3 linked regions of the Homo sapiens genome follow. The protein of the gene in region 1 purifies or fractionates together with the protein of each later gene. This does not show direct contact. Each region holds a gene or a part of one and is shown in the gene's direction. Other genes may lie near its edges.

Region 1 (3,652 bases):
GTCATCACATCAAAAATAAGAACAGACAACATTTATTGTTTGCTTGCTATGTGCCAGGAGCTTTTCCAGATAATTTGTAGGCATTCTTTCATGTAGTCCTCTCAATAATCTTTGTACATAGATACTAAGTGGAACCTAACAGGCAGGCTGAATATTTTGCTTGAGATGACTTAGGTAGTAAGAAGAGGAGCCAGTGCAGCCCTGCCCAGGTTTTTGACCACACCGTGCAGTGCAGCCATGCCCAGGTTTCTGACTACAGCATGCAGTGCAGCCATGCCCAGGTTTTTTACTACAGCGTGTGGTGTCCTGCCATAAGGCATGCTGGAGGAATCATCTTCTTTCCCACAATGTCCCTCTGAAAATATTCTCTTTTAGCTGCCATGTGAAGACAGGTTGAAAGGATGGGGCTTATTTAAGTATATATAAAACCTGAAGAAAATGGAAAAAAGATAAAAATCTAGAAACAACTGTGAATAGAAAATGGAAGAAATGCTGACCTTGTTGAGCAAATCCCTGATGAGTTGGATTAAGGAGTGTCCCTGAAGCATAAATGAGAAAAAAAATAATCCAAATAAGAATACAGTTCTCTTTTACACAGTGAGTAGTAGAACCATTACCTCATATTGGAAGCTAAAACTGTTTGCAGCTCCAAATGAGGTGGAGAGAAATGTCCTAAGCGAAAGTGCCCTAATGAATTAAGTTAGCCCAGATCTGTCCTTCTCTCTGGGCACCACAGACAATAGACCACTCTGCTGACTTTTCATAGGTACCAGAGTAGTGCTCATGTCCAAATAAATCCTTCTCTATCATTGGCTCTCTGTATTAAGACTTTGAATATTCAAGTATAAAGAGAGGATCATGAGATGTAATCCAGAGTGCTAATCCTGTAACCATGGGCTGGTCACTTCCTATTGGTAGACCATGGCTTCCTCACTGTTAGAGCAAAGAAGAGAAAATTAATTATCTAGTGATGCTTGTGTCTAGTGATGTGTTAGTTTTTATGTTACAGTGGTCCTATTAAATTATATCACTCTAATTATGTTACTCGTACCCTTCAAAACTACCAATGTGTACCTATGATCCACAGAATAATGTCCAAATTCCCTAGCATATAATAAAGCCCTTTGCACACTGGCCTCTGTCCCTCTCTACAGCTATTTTCTACAGCACGAGCACCTCCATTCATCCAAGTTCATTTCTTCACTAGGAATTTCCAGACACATGATGCCTTTCCTCTTTTAAGAATGTCCTTCCTGTTCTTCTTTTAACCTAGTGTTCTCTTACTTGCTTTTCAACCAGCCCAAATTCTGTCTCCTCTATGAAGGTTTCCCTGCTATCTAAACAATGTTATTTGCAGTCTTCTGCTGTTCATTTGCCTCATATGGCTCTCTCTGCTATAGGTCTATAAAGCCATGTTATGATGATGTGCGTCCATGTCTACACCTGCTGATTATATTGTAAACTCCCCAAGGGCAAGGATTGTGTCTTTTTTTTTTTTTTATCTCTACAGGCCTAGTGCCTAGCTCAGAACTTGTGTTTCATAAATAGGGTTTATATAAATACTTAAGGAAAGCACTTGAGGAAATAAAGAATAATAAACAATAATGTTATATTTTCAATAAGAGTTTTCTCCACAAATGGAAAAGGTATATACCATATGTGGCTCTAGCCTCAGTCCTACTATAACAGAATAGAGTATGCCTTTCAGAGATGGCCAAAGTCATGACCTGAGAAGTTTAAGTAAAAGTGATGCAACTGGAAGCCTCACCAATAATACCCTGTCTGGATCTAGGTTGGCCCAGAAATATATTGGTTCCAATACACAGGGAGAAATGTAGCAGCTTCAGATTCCTATGTATCACCTTTGGAAATTGTTAATGAAACACCTTTTTTTAAACCTTTCTGTTTTCCCTTCTTGCTATTCTCACACAGGTCTTCAGATAATCTTTCCTCAGTATCTGCAAGAGAAGTTTGTCCAGTCGGCCTTGAGCTATATCATGTGCAATGGGGAGGGGGAGTACCTGTGCCAGAACAGCCAGTGTCGCTGCCAATGTGCCGAGGAGTTTCCGCAGTGCAACTGCCCCATCACGGACATCCAGATCATGGAGTACACGCTGGCCAACATGGCCAAGTCTTGGGCCGAAGCTTATAAGGACCTGGAGAATTCAGGTAGAGAGTCTCACTCAGTGCCACTGCATGAGTGGCCTTGAGCCAAGTCTGAAAGGGAGCTAATCTAACTGGAATTAGGACTGCTGCAAGGGAAAGTTCAGTGACCCTGACCCTTTCACTTTGGAGTGTCCAGATGCAAGTATAATAGCTGTCACAGAGCAGGCACTCAATAAATCTCAACTGAATAAAATTAATGAATAGCATAATCCAGTTTGTGGTCATATGATGTATTGTTTCTGTCGTACCCAGAAGACAGAAAGAATAAATCTGCATAGGAAGCCTCTGGAGAGGGAAGAGTCAGAGGTAGTTGTATTGATTCCTTGGGCTGTGTATGTGTGTGTGGATATTTGTGTGTGTATGTGTTTGTGTGTGCACCCACACACTTCTGTCCATCTCTATAACTAGATAAACATACCTCTATGTGTATATTTATATGTGCATATGCATAGAGATATAGATATCCAAAGAATCTACAGACTATCAAAGCTCAAAGTCTCTTTTCTGGTATCTTAGTTATTTTCTGCCTTTCATAGTTCAGAAAAATGAGTTTCAGGGGTGGAAAGACAGTCATCCAAGCTCCTAAAGTGGATGAAGTCTGAAGTAGGATCTCTACCTTCATGGACATTTGAGTTTTGTTGGAAAGCCAGGCATTAATTATGTAACCATGCCAATGATTAGGAAATGTCAAGGATACGTCTGTAAAAAGGGAGGAGTTGCTGTGAACAAACGATGTAGAGTTGGGGGTCAATGTGGTCAAGGAAGTCTACCTTAAAAAAGAACAGAAATGGAAGTATCTGACTATGGTGCAGATATGAGAAGGTGATTACAGGTAGACCAATGGGAGGCACAAAGGGCCTAGGAGAGAGATGACCATGATGTGGGTTAAGGAGATGGTACAAGTTGTAAAAACTGGAAATGTGCAGATATGCCAACATATTTAGAAGGAAAAAATGGCAGAGCTTGATGTTAGATTGTCTACAAGAGTTGAAGAGAAAAGGGATATTGAGGTGATACTCATAAACCTCCTTTAGATAGGCATGTTAGACAACTTGATAGATGTTGATATCTTTCATTGAGCTAGAACACCCTGAAAGATTTGGAAAGAAGACCATGTGCTCACTTTTCTATAGGATAAGCTTGAGAATCCTTGAGACTTCCAAGAAGAGATGCCAAGCAGGTACTTAACATATAATATGTGCTCAAGTACCTGTTAAATAAATGGACTCATGCAAAAAAGCATTCCTGTCTTTACAACAACATTATATTTCTTAAATCTGTTATAATAGCCACCTTAAAGGAAGTACTAACATTTCTGAATTACAGAGAAGGGAACACCTCCTCTATAATCCTCCTGCAAGACCCAGTGTTTTCCCTAGGGTTGCACAGTTAGTAAATGGCAGGATTGGTAATGGAATTCCTGATTCCAAATCTAGTGCTCACAGCAGATTTGGTAACTTAATTTTACTTTGTCCCCCAGGCCTGA
Region 2 (3,652 bases), on another chromosome or scaffold:
CCTGTGCTGACTGCACTGTCTGGAGTCAGCACAGAAGTCCTATCTTAGGACCTGTCAGACTGTGGCTGGCCCCGGATGGTCTGAGGTTGGCTGACCCGAGCTTTTCTCCATTCACCAGAGGGTTTAGGTGTGAGGAGAAGGGCTCTGCCTCTTCCCAGGTACAACACTGGCCATTTCTGGGCAAAATTGGACACGCTTATGTTCTCAGCACAGTGTGTTCTGGGATTCTTCTCATTTGGTCCAGGGTGCAGTTAGCATATTAGAAAAAGAATAAGCTGGACATCCCCACGAAGCCACTGGGGATTTTTTTTTTTTTTTTCCAGATAGAGTCTCACTCTGTCACCCAGGCTGGAGTGCAGTGGTGCAATCCTGGCTCACTGCAACCTCTGCCTCCCAGGTTCAAGCAATTCTCGTGCCTCAGCCTCCTGAGTAGCTGGGATTACAGGGGCCCACCACCACGCCCAGCTCATTCTTGTATTTTTAGTAGAGACGGGGTTTCACCATATCGGCCAGGCTGGTCTTGAACTCCTGACCTCAGGTGATCCACCCGCCCGGCCTCCCAAAGTGTTGGGATGACAGGCATGAGCCACCGTGCCTGGCCACTGGGGATATTTTATGTCATGTGTATTCCCTTGCCCTGGGCCTGCCCCTTCTCCTGCCTGGGAAAGAGGTATGACTCCCACAGGAGCAAAGAATCCTGGGGGCTTCCAGTTCCCTCCACCATCTCTACCATGCTGACCCATTTGGGGCTCAGCACTGAGACAGAGGCAAGACCAGCAGCTCCAACATGTAGTGTAGGCTGGCACAGAGCAAATGCCCCCGCAGCCTGCTCCCCTTGCCCATGGCTCATGTCAGTAATCAACCTACGTACCTTTCCCACTGAACCAGGACAGGGCCTCCAGGCCTCAGCACAGAACTGCAGACAGCCACCACCAGGCATTGTCAATAAGACCTCAGTTCCCCCTCCTGCCCCACTGCAGAGCAATCCATTCCATCCAAAGCAGGGTGACTGGCAGTCTCCGGCCAGGCATGGGGCAAGGGTGGGGACTGCCAGTGTTTGCTTGTGTCTAGGAGTTATGAACAAGCTGGCCACCAAAATTGGCGTCACCCTGGGTGCCCACCAGCGCTGTCCTGTGTCTTGGGTCTGTGAGTCAAAGAAAAGGTCCCTGTCCCAGGGAGTGACAGGCAGTAATTAGGCTGAGTTGGGTGGGGAGGTTTGTCTCGGCCTCCACTGTTCCCGGAAACCGCTGTTCTCCTTGGAACAGCCACTGGGAGTTGGAGTGTTTATTTGATTTCTGACTTGCTAAGCCTGTAATTTACCTGCTGGAACAGACAGAGTCCAGCTGCCCAAACCGTGTCATTAAAAGCAGATCCTGGGCCCGCCCCATCCACAGGCACAGCCTGGCAGAGTGGTTCCACCTCCCCATGGGCCCAAGGATGCGCCTCTCTGGAGTTCACGTGCTGCACCCCCAGGGAGGGGCCTGGGGAGAGCTGGTCCAGCAGCAGGGGTGGAGGCTGGGGCCACACTGCGGGACAGCAGCCCCTCCACCTGGACCAGGGAGGGCCTCCATGTGCAAGCGCAGAGGAAGAGACCCTCTCATGTACATAAAGGGTGGGCCCAGGCTGTCTGGAAGATGGTGAGTTCCCCACTAGTCTAAGGCTTCAAGCTCAGCTAGCAGAGATTGGAAGAGGCAATGGCCTGAGTGTTAGGAGACAGGTATTCTGGTTCCAACTCAGCCACTGACTTGGTGTCAGGACAAGTCCCCTTTCTTATTCACGCTTCAGTTTCTCATCTGCAACATGAGGACATAGGACTCTTTAATTCCAAAGGCTCTTCCAACCCAGAGAACCCATCTGCCCCCATGACCTTCTCCCAGAGCTTGAGACATGGCCTGAGCCCCCTGCTGCCATAGGACTTGGGGCCTATCTGCCATTGCAGGACCTGATTTAACAGCTCTCTTCTTCCAATACTGGGCAGTAGAGTTTCGGAAACTGACAAATGTGTGGTCTCTTCAGTGCCCAGTGTGTAACCTGGCATGGTTTGGGTGTGCTAGGAGTTTGTGAAATGAATGTTTTCAAGACGCAAACGCTGCTATGCCCATCAGGTGTGCACAGCAGGCCTGAGGATCATGATGAGACTCCCTTTTTATGCAGCAAAGCACAAAGTGTGACAGTCGTGGCCTTCCTGGTGGCCAGACTTCTAGCAACTTTAGCCACCCACCAAATGACATCACATACAGAAGGCCTCAGAAAGGGAGGAGGTCGTAAGGACACACAGCTGATGAAGGGTCAGTGCTCAGCTATCAAGGTCATCTTCTGGCCTGGTTGCCTCCCACAGCCCAGGATGCATTCAAGGCTGCACATCAGGAGCATAAATAAGGGTGGTCAGCTCAGGCCCACTGGCTGCAACAAGTAGCCACTGACAGGGAGTCTGGGGCCATTTGGTGCAGAACAACCCCCAACCCAGTGGCCATCTTCACAACTGCAGCACAGTGCTGGCCCTAATGCCAGGTGAGCGTGCAAAGTCCTGTTTCTTTGTCTTTACATAGGGACCGGGCGATGCGCTTTAGAGAAATTCCCTATTATTTCACAGGAAAGGAGGCTGTGAAAAGGAGAGGGCAGGTTTTGGAGCCAAGTCGACCTGGCATCAGGTCCTGGCTGCCTTTTTTTTTTTTTTTTTAAAGACATACATGGTCTTGCTTTGTCGCCCAGGCTGGAGTGCAGTGGCAGTGTCATGGCTCACTGCAGCCTCAACCTGCTGGGCTCAAGCAATCCTCCCACTTCAGCCCGAGTTGCTGGGATGACAGGCACACGCCACCATACCCAGCTAATTTTTAAATTTTTTATAGAAACCAGGTCTCACTATGTTGCCCAGGCCGGTCTTAAACTTTGCCCAGGCCAGTCTTGAACTCCTGAGCTCAAGCAATCCTCCTGCCTCAGCCTCCCAAAGTGCTAGGATTACAGGCGTGAGCCACTTACCCGGCCTCTGCCTCTTGTTAATTTGACCACATCATGTACCTGCTGTGCCCGTTCCTTCCTCCGTAGAAGAGGGTGCTGGTCCTGCCCTTTTGAGGCCTCCATGAGGGCCAAATGTGCCATGGGACACTTAGTGCCATGCCTGCGCAGACCTGTGGAATAAACAGCAATTCTGAGCAGGCTCATTTTAAAGGGACTTGCAAATTTGGGCGTTCCTTGTGTGCCTTCCTCATAAAACCCACTCCTCCCAGAATATGCTTAGAGGTGCTGCTGTATTTACCTGAGAGCTATGCTTTTCATCAAAAACCTAAACGTGATCATCTCTTGGATGAGGTGTGGCCCTGCACACTCGCCTGCTCGTGGAAGGAGTCTGGGCCAGCAGTGACCCACGCGCTAGGGTCTCTGCTGAGGAAGTGGCAGGTGTGCGGCCCTGCCCTGGCCCCGTAGTGAGTGTGGGGCCCACCTGTGCCCTCATGGGCAGCTGAAGGGGGAGCTTTCTACCCCAGGTTCCTTTCCTTACTGAAAAGTCTTGAGCAAACAGTTGCCGCTCTCCACCCCCTGCTTTTTAAAAAAAATTTTTTCTCACGTAAGAAAATGTTATCTGTGTGCTGGGGAAAATTTTGAAAATAACAAAAACCAGAATACAAACACCCATAATCAATCACAGAGATAACCA
Region 3 (3,652 bases), on another chromosome or scaffold:
ATAACACTATCTGGTAACTAAGCTGCCATCTGGGGAGGGCAAGTCAGGTTGGCTGGAAAACTTCTGTTTTGTCCAGAGGCTCTGCTAGTTGGGGACATGGGTGAAATGCTCACTTCTTCACTCTTTCTTTATGTGCCTAGCTGCCTTCTAAATAAATGGTGAACAAATATTAAAGGATATCAGTTTCTTGGGGACCTATATTATCAGCCCATCTTTTAGTGAATTTAATTTTAGATAAAATGTATAGATATGGTAGTTGTGTCACCTCTAAAATGCTTCTAGTTCCAGGAAGCTGAATTAAGAAAATATTTTTCTATACACCTTTAAGTTTGGGTTTTAATGGAAATATAATTTGTATGTATATTTATTTTTTTAATTTCTAGAAAACAAATTTCTTTTCACCTTGTGACTTGTATATTCCTATTTCTCATGGAATAATTTGTGGCATAGATAGGTAGACTCAAGCAACTAACTTTAATCGAAGGCTACCGTAGATCAGCCAGTGTGCTGTGCTGTGCTGTGTGTTGGGGATACAGAAGGGAGATACAGCCCCACCTGCTGAAAGCTCACAGCAGACAGACCAGCAGACAACTACTATGCAGTGTGTTAAGAGTGAGCTGATCACATGCACAGGATGCCATGGGAACCTGGAGAAGGGGTGCCTGATAAAGCCTTCTGGTGCTACAGGGCTATTTGGAAAAATGGAAAACAGAGAGAGGTGGGGTGATTAACTTGGACCCATGGATGAGTTAGGTATGGTCAGGAAACTGTGACTAACTCATTACGCCTGGTGGTGAGTTTGCAATTAAGGGAGTATCAGGAATTAAGGCTAGAAAGATAGGCAGAAGTCAGAACATAAATCATTTTATAGTCCAAGCTAAGGAATTTTTTCCCCTGAAGACAATGGTGAGCCATTCAGGGATTATAAGCAGAGAAGTAACAGGAACAGATTTGCACATTGGGAGAAGATGGCAAAATAGATTGGAGAGGAGGCAGGAACCTCGGAGGTAAGGGAGGAGGTTGGAAAATTGTGTAGTTGTTCAGGTGGACAAGTGCAAAGGCCTCAAAAGCTGTGTGGTAGTGAGTTGGAGAGGAAGAGCTAGACTCTTAGAAGATAGAATCAGGAGCACTGGCAGTGGGCTGCAGTGGGAAGGGCATGGAGCTAGAGGAAGGCCACCTTCCCTCAGGTACGTGGTTGTCCCATTAGGCCAGAGAGCACCAGAACGAAAAGTAGGTGGACATGTTTAGTGGGGAGGCTGGGAGAAGTGTGGGTTGCAGGAGGGAATTCTTACTTGACAGTAACCTTTGAGGTTTGAGATGCCTGGTGGGAACCCAGGGAGCGATGTCCTGGGAGCAGTCGGCTGTGTCATGTGACTCAGCATGTTGGCTGAACATGGAGTTCTGGGAGTGAGTTTAAAAGGAAAAGATCAGAAGGGATAGAAATGTGAGGAAAAGAGTATTCCGAGTGGGTAGAGGAAAGGAGACTGCTAGTGAGCTAGAGAGCAAGACAGGGTATTGGATAATGCTGTTGGGAGAACTGAGGGAGGGGAGACGGCACACTGCCCACAAGTGATGGGATCCGTCAGAGGACGCTGATATGAAAGTCTGGACCTCACTTTAGTGCTGGGGGATTTGTCTTCCCATTGTGGCTGATCTGGCACTGAGTTTGATGCCAGAATAGGCCCTGTGAGCTGGCAGGCAGTCTTGCTAAGACGGTGCTTTGCTTCACCACTCATTGACTATGAACAAGCGAATTTCCCAGACTTTTTTTTTCTACATTATTCTCATAGTTTCTTATTTTTTTAAATTAACTTTGAAATTAGATGTTGGCTTGAGCATATTCTTCTATAAAAATATTCTTAATTTTATTATTTTTGCCTTATAGGGGTCAGGTGATCAACATGAGATACCTAGAATATTTTGAGAAAATACTTCATTTTATTAAAGACAGAATTCTTGTTTATCATGGGTAAGCCTTTAATTTTCTCCTTCTTAGTAATGAGTTGATTTCATGTGTTTTATATTTGTTATATTTTTGAAACTTGAGAACTAAGCCTGTTGACGGGCTAAACAAGGTCTATCAAATTTTTACACAGTGTTTAGAATCGTAAAGGCTTTCATAATCACTTTCTTTTTAATACAAAATCCACAGACCTCAACTGAAGTGTTTTTAACTTTATGTGCACTATTGTGACTTTTCTAGTCTCTTTCTTCTATAAAGCAGGATGTTTCTTTGGATTTATCTTTTAGGGATTTCAGCTTTAATACTTACTCTCCTTCACTTGAAAGGCAGGATGGGATAGACAAAACAATGAGCAGAACACTAGGAGAAAAAAAATCTGAATGCTTAAATATCACCAAGTAAATATAAAATCGGTGGAAAAACCTAGCAGAATACTTTCATTTGAGCAGCTTTAGAAAGGAAAAAAACAACACAAAACATCCACATATAATTTTAGAGCTGGAATAGGAAAATCAGAGTTTAAGAACCAAACTCATAACCATACATGTTCACACAAACACTGGCTTTTGATCCATTCTGCTTTTTCCTGTTTTGCCTTCTAGATGTTTCCTTAATTCTCATCTGCTGCTGTTTCCTTAATTTTCATCTGCAGTCCAAAACTCATTAGAATTGAACTATCCCGTTATTTGGAAGGTTTATTTGTGGCCTACCATTTTGAATGTTTAGCTACTCAAAATTGAGGTCAATTTATTTAAATTAAAGATAATTGCATGATTAATTATTACAATTCTGCATTAATCTCAGTTGCCATCTCTCTCTGTCTCTCTTTAAGAGCTAATAATCCTAAAGGATTGCTGGAAGTTCGGGAAGCCCTGGAAAAGGTACACAAAGTAGAAGACCTTCTTCCGATTATGAAGGTAACTTTAGCATCAGAATGGCAGTCCATGTTTTTAGAGGAAAAGAAAACCAACAGCACTTTTTTAAAAAGAACTCAGAATTATTAAATGCTATTTGAAATCACTCGTATGAACACATTCTGAATAATAACCAAAATAAAAGAACCTACAGGCATCAGACTCAAACAGAAAAAACAACTTGTGAGGAAGCAGTTAATATAGAAAAAAGAAAACTTAAAAATACATATAATTGAATTCTGCTTCTGGCCACAGCTGAGTAACTGGTACTCAGCTGCCCTTCTACATGATTGCAGTTATAAAACTGGACAAAAGTTAGTTATTTTCAGGCACTGGCTAATTACAATAATGTGAATCCCACTGTCACCCCAGCTTTCTACTGTGGTATTTATTAGACCACTGCACGGTAATGTGGAGCCCAAGCAGAGTACAGTGGTCTTGCTAAGCTAAGGAGGTAGAGAGTGGAGTTTGGTTCTGCCAAAGTGGCTGGAATTTGCAGAGCAGAGTATAGGAGAGAAGGAGGCCATGTAGGCTGGGGAGTGCTCAGGGGTTAATGTGAGCACTCCTTTTCATCCTTGACTAAGACCTTGGTCATGAACATGCAATAAAAGACCATGAGAGGCTCAGCAGAGAGTGGCTACTGTGGGAACGAAAGCTGAGCAGAGGTATCAGAGGTGTATGTGCTGAGAGACATTGGAGTTTCGGCCTTGCCAATGTGGATGGATCCTGTGAACACCTTGGGCGTTTAGTTAAGACCCCAGAAAGGACACAGTTT

What was found.
Region 2: the proteins of BRINP1 (region 1) and BMP8A purify together in Homo sapiens (affinity purification with mass spectrometry; one large-scale study listed by BioGRID and IntAct). This does not show direct contact.
Region 3: the proteins of BRINP1 (region 1) and TTC13 purify together in Homo sapiens (affinity purification with mass spectrometry; one large-scale study listed by BioGRID and IntAct). This does not show direct contact.

Annotation. Positions count from the first base shown.
Region 1 is NC_000009.12:119,212,436-119,216,087, reverse strand, and holds part of BRINP1 (BMP/retinoic acid-inducible neural-specific protein 1 precursor), read left to right. Parts: intron 1-1,932; coding exon 1,933-2,169; intron 2,170-3,652. UniProt on the Homo sapiens protein: Plays a role in neurogenesis and brain development. May suppress cell cycle progression in postmitotic neurons by inhibiting G1/S transition.
Region 2 is NC_000001.11:39,526,037-39,529,688, forward strand, and holds part of BMP8A (bone morphogenetic protein 8A preproprotein), read left to right. Parts: 3' UTR 1-3,652. UniProt on the Homo sapiens protein: Induces cartilage and bone formation. May be the osteoinductive factor responsible for the phenomenon of epithelial osteogenesis. Plays a role in calcium regulation and bone homeostasis.
Region 3 is NC_000001.11:230,919,738-230,923,389, reverse strand, and holds part of TTC13 (tetratricopeptide repeat protein 13 isoform a precursor), read left to right. Parts: intron 1-1,885; coding exon 1,886-1,969; intron 1,970-2,795; coding exon 2,796-2,880; intron 2,881-3,652.